Regions from separate parts of the Homo sapiens genome. Here region 1 is linked to region 2. A link means that fine-mapping ties the variant in region 2 to the expression of a gene that starts in the linked region. Tissue or cell type: lymphoblastoid cells. Region 2 holds a variant in brackets; the other region holds the start of a gene. All regions are shown on one strand. Distances are between the middles of the regions.

Region 1 (5,381 bases), 28 kb after region 2:
ATGAATTTGATTAAATCCAATATACTCAGGGGGGATTTCATTCGTTGTTTCTTATCTAGCTTTTTTTTCTCACTACTTTGGTTCTCTAATAGAGTGAACTATTGAAGCATTTACAAAATGAGAAATCCTCCAGGATACCAGACACTGAAACTCTCCTCTGTTCTCTAGTGGATTTCACTCTAGATTGTCACAATAGGTATTTTGATTCTGTACTTTAAATACTGGGTTGTCTAAGTGTTCCCAAATCCTTTGTGTTCATTCTTAGCCATTCACAATCACCAAGACCTATTTAAAAATTTACATTAACAGGGAAGCTAACAGACACTCCCTTTTCATTCTTCAACTCTTTTGAAAAGCACGTAATACTCATTCTTGAATGTATCATGCTTTTTCTAAGCAACAGTATTTAATCTATTTGCCAAAGGATGGCATTTATCTGTTGCTTTTTTGGTTTATGGTTCTTTCCATACCCCCAATTATTTTTTCTTGAACATAAGCTGAAATTCTTCCCCTGCAGATGTTTGAGGCTGGTTCATATAGTCCCTAATCCCATTGGATATCCTTACTGATTTATAAAAGTTTCCCTCTACTCAGATTAGCATCAAAATACTCTTAATGCTTTTAAAAATGCCATCATATGAACTGATTTGGATCTTTAGGAGTCAGAGAGATTTATTCACTTCCAATCACTTGAATTCGTGTCAGTGTTTCATGCTTCAATGACCCAATTAATTTCAGTGCCATTTTCTTCTTTCGGGCTTAGCAGCTGCTTTGTGGTGGCAAAGGTTCATTCAAATGTAATGTATTTGAGGGCAACATATGAATCTTCATGTGTGGCTTTACATTTCATTCAATAATAGATGCCCTTCTTTTCCCTGTGTATGATGTGTTATTTCTTTTGATGCATTCAAGCTTTTCTCTTTATTTTTTTGACTTTCAATAGTTTTATTACAATGTAGACTTCTTTGTGTTTATTTTAGTTGCTATGTATTTAGCATTTTGTACTAGTAAATGTGTTTTTCATCAAATTTGGGGAAATTCTGGCCACCACTCTTTCTTCAAAAATTTTTTCTGTCCCTTTTTTTTTCTACTTCTGTTGTTTACATGCATGTTGGATTGTCTGACATGTAGCAAATCTCTGTTGGTCTACTCACTTTTTAAAGATAATTTTTCTCTTTGTTGTTTACTTTTAATAATTTCTATTGCTCTATCTTCAAGTTCCCTACTTTTTCTTTTGTAATTTTTTTTGGCTGTTAAATTCACCCAGTGAATTTTTTATTTCTAAAATTATAATTTTCAATTTTCAGAATTTCCATTTGGTTTTAAAAATCTTTTTTTTTCTTTTTCTTTGCTGAGATTTTCTATTTGTCTCCTGAGATTTTCATTCATTGAAAACATGTTTTACTTCATTGAGGATAGTTATAATAGTCACTTTAAAATCCTTATCTGTCAGTTTCAATATCTGATTCATCTCAGGGTTGATCTCTAGAGTATGCGATCCATTTCCTTGAATTTCATATGTCAGATAGTTTTGGATAGTACTCTGGACTTTGTGAGTGTTAAGTGGAGAGTCTGGATTCTATTATTCTTCTCTGATGAGTGTTATTTCCTTTGTATTAGTAGGTAATTTTCCCGGCTAGATTTTAACTGAAAACTCTCTCCCTTTTGGAGACAGCTCTGGTCTCAGTTCAGATCTTTTGTTTTTAACTGAGCTGCTGTGATTCTGTTTTGGGTGGTTCAGGATCTCTCAGAGATGTGGGTTGACAGTTTGGGGATCCACTCTCTGACTCCTTCCTTGGGATTTCTTAATCTCTTCAGAATTCAAAATTTTCTGTCTTCACTTTTCTGCTTCCCCAGACAAGAATAACTGATAAGTTTTATACATGCATCCCTGGTACTGCTGAGCCTGACTTCTGGACTGCACTTTGCCCCAAGCTAAATGCCAAAGAGAGGAGAATTTTCTTGTGGAGTTCTTGATCTTCAAGCAAGCTTGCCCTTCCTACCAGTCTGCTGTTCACATTCCAGTATATTCAGCTTTTTGTATTGTGTCCAAGTGTAGTTCCTGATCTTCAAGCAAGCTTGCCCTTCCTACCAGTCCACTATTCACATTCCAGTATATTCAGCTTTTTGCATTGTGTCCAAATTGTTTTCTGCTGGGGGATGGTCCACTAGGGTCTTAGTCTATCATGGTTGAAAACAGAAGTTATGTCCTGCCTGGGACTTTGGATTTTGAGTCACCCTTGTCCTGGTCAATGCGATAGCCTCCTAACCAGTCTCTGTTTGTGTCCTTGCTCCCTCCAGTCTATCCTCAACATATCAGTCAGAGTGATCCTATGAAAACGTCCAGGAGCCTCCAATAGCTTCCCATTTCACTCACAGTAAATTAAAAAATACTTAAAATGTGCTACTCTGCCTGTTTGAAACTCCTCATCCTTGGCTTCCAGATCACATGCTTATGCTAGTTTGTATCCTACCTTTCTGAACACTCGTTCAGCAACTCGTGTTTCCTCTAATCCTGAAACGTGGGTCCACCCTGAAAGTATGGTTCTACTTTAAAGTTCTATGTCAGGGCACTGAGTAAGGCCTTTCCCGTCCCCAGCAATCAGAAACCAGGACCCCACTGCTGAAGGCAAAGAGGACGTATGTATCCCCCAACTTTCTCAGAGAGTTATCGGCAGCACTGACTTAAAGAGGATTAAGAGCTTCAGGGCGCAGGCTACTCTTTAATATTTTTCACGTTAGAATTTGCTCAGATTTGAATAAACGCAGAGCGAAACTAGAGAGCGTTCGCGCAGGTTCTAGCTACCTTGGTCAGAAGGAGGGGCTGATGCAACTTTCCTCCCAGTTTCTGAGCCCTCTCGCACTGCAGCTGCGAGCCTCGGGGAAGCGGAACCCACAGGCGCGCGCGCCGCTGCTTCTGGCCGGGCGCGGGTCGTGGTGCACCACGGGAGCGCCGCACCGGCCGGCATGGAGGAGCGCGGCGATTCCGAGCCGACCCCCGGCTGCAGCGGCCTGGGTCCGGGCGGTGTTCGCGGCTTTGGCGACGGCGGTGGAGCTCCTTCGTGGGCCCCTGAGGACGCCTGGATGGGCACTCACCCTAAGGTCAGGAGGCGCGAGAGGAGCAGGGCGCCGTCCAGGCCCCTAACCCAGGCAGAACACTCCCAGGCAGCTCTCTTTCTTTCTTCCTCAGTGGGAGACTGAGGACGCGCGCCACCCTCACCGAGGGGGACCGGTGTGCACAACTGCCAGCCTCAGGCAGCATCGGTTTTGTTTGTTTAAACAAGTTGCACTATCTCAATCCCCCAGCCAAAGCCATTTTGGAACTGAGAGCCAGACAGTAACTCCGCCCCTCTCAAGCCGGAGATCCCTAATAAGCGCTCCACTAGTTTTGCTGTCTAGGTAAATCCCCTTTGGGGGATAAATTTATTTAATCCTCACGGTAACCATGCAAGACAATTTGTGGGCGATGGATAAGATCTAGGGGTCCATAGTGATAAAGATTTAAGCACAGTCACGTTTACACTTAGCCTTGGGCCCAGAATGCATCTTTATTTTGAAAAGGTGCAGATTCCTAATATTTCAGATTTCTTCGAAAGTTTGAATAGGTTCTTGCTCAAAGCAGAGCTACTCACATTTTGCGTGTATTTTTCTAGATTAGCAGCAGGCGAGATCAAGATAGTCCTCTGCTTACTTCTGCTTGAGACATTACTGCCTTGTACAAGTACGGTTCCAAGCAGTGAATAGACAGTGAATGGAGATGTGGGTTTTGTAAGAATCTCAAAAACTAGTCTCTACGGTACTTTAACAGAATTGCACTCTTCTGCTAGAGAGCAATAATTCATAATCATCTAAAAACAGCCAAGAAAAAATTTGAAGGTATAAGTTTGAAGAGTTAACCTTTTTCAGCTTCTCTTGCTTAATTTTATCTTCCTACTCTGTCCCCTTCATCCTCCCAAAAGGTGAGAAAAAGAAACAATAGCATGGAAATATTATTTAGTGCCCTTTTAGGGAAACAATAGCATGGAGAGGCAGCATATTGGTTAGGCGCATGAACTCAAAATCAGACTCAGTTTAAATCCTGATTCTGTCACTTATCAACCTTGTGATTTGGGACAAGTTGCTTGATCTTATTATGCCTTAGTTTCCTCACCTGAAAAATGGGGATATTAATAGTCCATACTTACTTATACGGTTGTTACAGGATTAAATTAATGAATATTTGTAAGCCATTCAACATACAGAAAGCACTATATAAGTACTTAATAAGCGAAACACCAGTAACAACTTTTTAAGACTTTATCTAGATTTGGTGGTGTTATTCAGTTTATATACTTGTAGATTGTTTTCTTTTTCAAGTTAATGGCTGTATACACCTTGACCATCAAATCTCCCCTTTTGATTTCTCTTCTTGAAGGATCAAATTAATTTTTAAAAGAAAAAGAACAAGTAATAAAATAATAGGGGGTATTTGTTTTTCCAATTTCACCTTTCTGTTAATTTAAAAATTATGTAGTTTCATCCAGTAAAATGGTACCAGATTTATTATCCCCAAACACACTTTTATTTTATTATTCTCCTGCTTAGAAATCCTCAGTGTTTCCATACTGATAAAATCACATGTTTAGCTTGACCACCAAAGCCTTGTAACCTGGCTCAAAATTATGTTTTGGGTGTTATTTTCAAAACATGTTTGAAGTCGACAACTAATTAACCCCTGTCCTCCTGAACCTGTACAGTTACAGTGAAGCTGATGGGAGAATGTGACTTTAGACCTGTCCCCATGCAGGTCTGCTAATAATTCAACTCAGCATTAGCCCTGCATATCCACCTAGTCGCTGGCATAGCTGGGCAGCCTCAGAATTCTCCTGCAGGTGTAGGCCCCTGAAAAGTATTCCCCTTATGCTGACCAGTAGTCTGAAAGAAGCAGCTTTCTCTAGTTCCTTGTCAATTCCTTTTAAAAAATCTACTCTTAAAGTGAGAAAGAGTGGGTAGAGAGGCTAGGACTGATACTCTAGCAGATTCTCTCCATATACAAATAAGAGGCTAGGGAAATACACAGTACCCACTAACATGTCCCATCACAAGTTTTATTAAAAAGGTTTCTCTATTGCTGGCAGATAGGTTTCTTTACAGGCCCTTGAATGTATGTGGCTTAATCCCACCTTTGTGTAATTACCTGCAGTATTACTCTACTTCTCCACTTACTTAAATCATAATGTTCTTCAGTGCTCAACTTGTATCCCATCCCACCTCTGCTATAAATCTTTCACCAGTCCCTCTGAGTAGAGCTCTTCTGACCTGCTGTGTCATGTTTTTTATTCCATTTACATGGTTTTTAATCACTTACAGTCATATATTGTTATTTGCCTAACAATTTTAAG
Region 2 (5,381 bases):
GGCACGAGACTATAGGAGTGAATACCAGGAGGCAAGGATCACTGGGTCCATCGGGAGAGGTTGGTGCTGTTACAGTTCACTGTTTTTAAAAAGCAAGCCTTTGAGGTTCCAAAACCTTGTATTTTTATACACTACTTCAACATTTAAAGGACTTGAAAAAACTCATTAAAGCTTTCTACTTTTCTAAGACATTTGAAGAAAGTATGAATTTCTTTTTAGTGACTTATATGGTTTGAATGTGTCCCCCAAAGTTCATGTGTTGGAAACTTGATCCCCAATGTGGTAACGTTGGGAGGTGGGACATTCAAGAGGTAAGTGGGACTTGAGCTCTGCCCTCATGAGTGGACTACTATTGTTATTGAATGAGGGGGTTTGTTATCATGAGAGCGAGTTCCTTATAAAAGGACAAGTTTGGCCTCTCTTGTTCTCTCTCACCCTTTCTTGCCCTACCACCATAGAATGATGTAGCAAAAAGGCCGTCGCCAGATGCCAGCCCCTCAATTTTGGACTCCCAGCCTCCAGAACCATGAGCCAGTGAATTCTGTTCATTATAAATTATTACCCAGTCTGTGGTATTCTATTATAGCAGCACAAAACAGACTAAGACAGTGACAGAATAAATGAAAAGAATAATAAAATGACTACTGCCCCCTTCACTATGTATTTAATAACAAGTTACTGGTTTTGTTTTACTATCTATTTAGTTGAGAATGTGCAGCACTCAAGCTCTTTGAATGTCAAAGTGGGATTAATGCCAAGTGCAGACAAAGCTGGGAGGAGTTTGAACAAGTATTTGGAAGCAAGTCCCCAGACAGGATTTGCAGCCCATGTCTCTTTTGAGACAATGACATATGCAATTCTTCTACCAAAAATGATCTCACTTGTTAACAGTTGATTGTTCAGGGGTCTGGAAAGGATACTGTATTATTCTGGCAGCCAGAGTAAACTTGGGGCAGGCTGTAGCCATGTGTAACCCTTATCGTCTTAGGGCTCAAAAACTAAGGAAGGCAAATATATTTGTAAAGTTGCTGAAGACAAGAGTTATCTGTCTGGATTTTTTAAGTCATAATCATTCTGTACAAGGTGAAAGGAAGAACACCTTCTCCCAATTATTTCAGATAAGACAGTTGAATTTCTACTACAATGACTAAAACTAATTACGTGAATAAATAAATAGATCAATCCATCAATAAATTAACTAAGGAGCCTGAAGAAAGTATTAATTTCTTTTTAGTGACTCCTCTGGCTTGAATGTGTCCTCCAAAGTTCATGTGTTGGAAACTTGATCCCCAATGTGAGAAGCCTTAAGATTTACCTAGAAAAATGCCTGTTTGGAAACACAGAAAGAAAATAATTAGAAGGGAGAAAATGGAGCCAAACAAACGATGTTAGTACAAGTAGGAGTGAAATTTAAATAAAAATGAGAACTCTAAATTCACTCCAAAAAATCAATTCAGGAGAAATTATTTCAGAAGGTAAAACACAGAGTATGGTTCTTCTGCTCCTTTGACATCAAAATAATAAGGGAAACTGTTGCTTTCTGGCTCAAAGCTATAGAACACAAAGGCAATTTGTTATCTAATACTTGACAACTGATATATAGCTTAGGGGAAGCAACACTAAATCTCAGATACTCTATTACAAAGAAGAGAGAGAAAAGCTTCAAAATCTGTTTTGCCTCAGGGCAGAAATCGTTTCACCCTCAGTCCATTAAATCACATTGACTATGATATCAAAGTGAAAACTCATTAGGGCATTTTATGCTTTCATGCTTGAGCCCTAGTGTTACCAATGCACCCAAGAGAAACCTTCCTTAAGAAACTCAAAACAGCTGGCACCACATTTCAGGGAAACAAGGCAGCTGGCCTACAGCTGGAGAGTATCAGCTGAATAGCCAAGACTGGAGAGGGATGAGGGAGTCAGCCAAAGAGCAGTATTTTCTCGAGATAATTCTGATCTAGCAGAAGGATGTGCTTTTTTATTTATTAGTTATAGCTTGGAAAGGGAAGCGTTTGATTTTAGAAACTAAACCCCTAGTGTAAGTCAAAGAGTTACTAAGGGGAAGACTCCTTGAAAAAGAAAGTTTTTGCCTTCTTGATTTTGACTTTTCTGTAGCATATAAACTCAAACTCAGGAGACAAGTGATTTTCAGTCTCCCATATCTCTACTTCCTTTGACTTTTGTTTTGCTCCTAAAGTGTCAGCAAGGAGGGAGGTAGCCCCAACCAGCTTCATGTTACAAGGACCTTTCATGGCACTCATGCTTTTGGCCTCTGAAGGCATTGCCAATGTTTAGTATTTCTATATAATGACACTACTGTGAAGTAAAGCCTTTCCATAGGAGGAGCTATCACTTCAGTGTGATAATCCACTAGCTTGGTGAGACTTGAATTCCAACTGGCAGGTTCTTCTAACCTCCAAAGTGCAAATGCAGGCTGCTTTCCTTACACAGCAGACTGAGCAAAAAACACCAGTAACTTTTGCAAATAACAAACACACATATCGTTTCCCATCACAATGGCAAATGTCAAACTGCTGTTTTTGCTTTTTCCAAAAGTGCGTGAGG[TG/T]GGGGGGGGGGGCGGTGCCGGAAGCATTCTAGGGAAGACTTGCACTTACTTATTTTGCATATATGATAAAATTAAATCTAACCAAATACCTGCAACACGTACACTTATGCTGCAAATATTCCACTCCTAGTGGAGTCAACAGCAATAGATTTCCTAGTTTTCAGACCTGGAACTATCTCCTCTGACATAGTTCTGACATAATTCTCTGGGCTTTTTTTCTTCTCATCACAGCCTTTTTTTGCTTCTGTTGTTCATGAAAAAAGATAGCATTTTCACTCAGGTTAGAGGGCAAATAAGTTTTTACAATTTTTATATAGATATGAATCATCAGTCTAATCACCAAGGATTTGAGACATGGATAAGTCAAAACTACAGAAGAAGTCAAATCTAAGTAAAAATAAAGGAAAAAAGCTCAAAATGCCATCTTAAATAATGTGGCAATAGCGTGAGTTGTTTCATTTTTCATGGCATTAGTGGTGGAACTTCAAATACATAGCATGTGGTGGCTAGAAAAGTCTTGAAAGATTAGCCTATGCAACCCTCATTGTACAGGTAGGAGGGCAAGGCAAGGCAAAGAATTCAAGAAAATTTGAAAATACAGTGGTACATGACATAGACAATGCAAAAGAGCAGTTAAGAAATCAGATATTACTGGTACTGGAATGCTCTGTATGGAATGTTGCTGAATACCTTTCAGCTTTTTTCTTTTTCTTTTTCTTTTTTTTTTTTGACAGAGTGTTACTCTGTCGCCCAGGCTGGAGTGCAGTGGCATGATCTCGGCTCACTGCAACCTTCATCTCCTGGGTTCAAGTGATTCTCCTGCCTCAGCCTCCCGAGTAGCTGAGATTACAGGTGCCCATCACCACACCCGGCTAATTTTTGTATTTTAGTAGAGATGGGGTTTCACCATGTTGGTCAGATTGGTCTCAAACTCTTGACCTTGGTGTTCTGCCTGCCTTGGCCTCCCAAAGTTCTGGGTTTACAGGCGTGAGCCACCACACCCAGCCTCAGCTTTTTTTTTTTTTTTTTTCTGAGCAGAGATAAAAATTAGGCTCCGTTCTCTAAACATACAAGTATCAGGCAACACAGAGACAGAGATACAGCTCAAGGGTTTGTTGGATGATTGGACCAAGCTGACCTGTTATCAAAACTGGCTTCTACATATCCAACATACTGACAATCCATGCATAGACAACTGATAGTTCTACTACTGCTGTTATTTTGATAAGATGCATGGGAAAATGAGGTCTTGGGCCTCACAAGAAGATTATCAGTAGCAAAGTCTGGCCAATGGGCTTGGAGGTTCCATGCTTTCCAGAGGGACACTTAATAATCTGCCTCTCATAGGGCAAGGAGAGTTCAGCAAATATTAGGGAGTTACTGCCCTTTCCACTTTAGACAAACACCAGCAGTTCCCCTTTAGTTCAATGGTATTCGCACAGGCGTTATGAAAGCTGTTAAGATTCAGAACCATTGTCAGAGGACTTGGCAGAATGTAACCTAATCTTTTCTGACTGAGAGACAGAAAACTGGCCCAAAAGTGGGGCTATAACCTTCAGTCACCTGCTGGCATTGCTGCCATCTGATGCCTAAGAAATGAGGATCCAGTGTGTCTTTGATGCCCGTCAAAGCTTTGAAGCTGGGTCAAGACCAGGGGACAAAGGCAGCACTGTTTATGCAAATCTGGAAACAAAAGAAGCTAATCTCCAAAGCCATCAGAAGTAACATCAGAAATTCAATACCCAGAGAGGATTAGAGGCCCTAGACCAGTATGAAATAGGAAACCTAAAAGCAAAGCTGGGCAACACACCAAAACACATACTGTAGGAAGGAATCCTGAGCTGGCCAGAGCCTGGCTAGATGTGCTCAGAAGTCTTGATATATGCAGCTCCCTTAGTCAAGAGGCAACCATCTGTGTGCCAAAGGAAGGACCTCCTGGGCAGCTGCTGCTTCTCTACCTGGTGCACACAGCTCCTTCATAAGAAGGTCTAATATATGCCATTGCAAGGCTAGCTCTCATGTTGCCACTTTCCTTGGGAGTTCAGTCATCATCAAGCACGTGCCTTCCCAAGGAGACAACACTCTTAGCAAACACCTTTCGCACAGTATAAAACAGGATAAAATACCACGAGCTTCCTAGAAAAGGATTTTTTAAAGCCATCCCCCAGAGATCTAAAGTTGGGCTGAGGGTCCAGGAAGCATCGATTATGCAGTTATGTGAACATTCTTCAGATATGGTTATCCCCATGAAGAGGAAAGTGTTAGGTCAGGAAAGGACTCAGAGAACATCTCATCTAGAGATTTTTAAGCAAGACTGCATATTACCACCCTTTGGGAAGTTTTCAAAATACGTCAATTGCCCTGGATCATCAAATGATTCCAATAAGTGGCTGCATTTGAAAAGCACAATTTTAGCACATTTCCCTTATGTTACAGGAGAAACTAAGTGACTTGCTCAAAGCAGCCTAGCATGAGCAATGCTTCCAAGACCTTTCACAGGACAACACAGATAGCGTATTTGCACACTAGGGAAAAATGAAAGACGCTGCTTTTGGCTAGAGGAAACTGTCCTGGAGACCCCACTGCCACCAGCCTCACTTCATCTCCAGGTGATTGTTATTTTCTTGGTGGGATGTGCTAAGCTGTGGTATGCAGTTCACATTTTTGAGAAGGATAAAAGATACAAAAATAAAGTGGATGCATAAACTTAAGAACTTTATTGTAGAATTTTTGCCCTGTCACCAAAAGAGCACAAGAAAATAGGGTATGGAACCATATAAGACTTAACAACTGAGTTGCAATCTTCCCCACAGGA

Which allele goes with the higher level. Positions count from the first base shown, and alleles are read on the strand shown. Sizes are in standard deviations (SD) of each study's normalised expression.
As copies of TG replace T in region 2, the expression in lymphoblastoid cells of the gene that starts at base 2,942 in region 1 goes up (small effect, 0.21 SD a copy in TwinsUK).

Evidence for each region.
Region 1: TSEN15 starts here. The variant in region 2 is fine-mapped to the expression of TSEN15 in lymphoblastoid cells (TwinsUK, PIP 0.95).

Annotation. Positions count from the first base shown.
Region 1 is chr1:184,048,789-184,054,169 of GRCh38, forward strand. TSEN15 (tRNA splicing endonuclease subunit 15) reads left to right here and starts at 2,942. Exons shown (of 5, transcript NM_052965.4): 1 at 2,942-3,102. The coding sequence starts at 2,968. RefSeq lists enhancers at 1,861-2,796, 2,549-2,658, 2,719-2,848, 2,727-3,021.
Region 2 is chr1:184,021,078-184,026,458 of GRCh38, forward strand. The region is part of intron 1 of COLGALT2 (collagen beta(1-O)galactosyltransferase 2); the gene reads right to left. Among named protein-coding and RNA genes, the nearest start is that of COLGALT2, 14 kb to the right of the region's middle. RefSeq lists an enhancer at 3,784-4,523. The variant TG/T (reference allele first, on the strand shown) is at 2,566.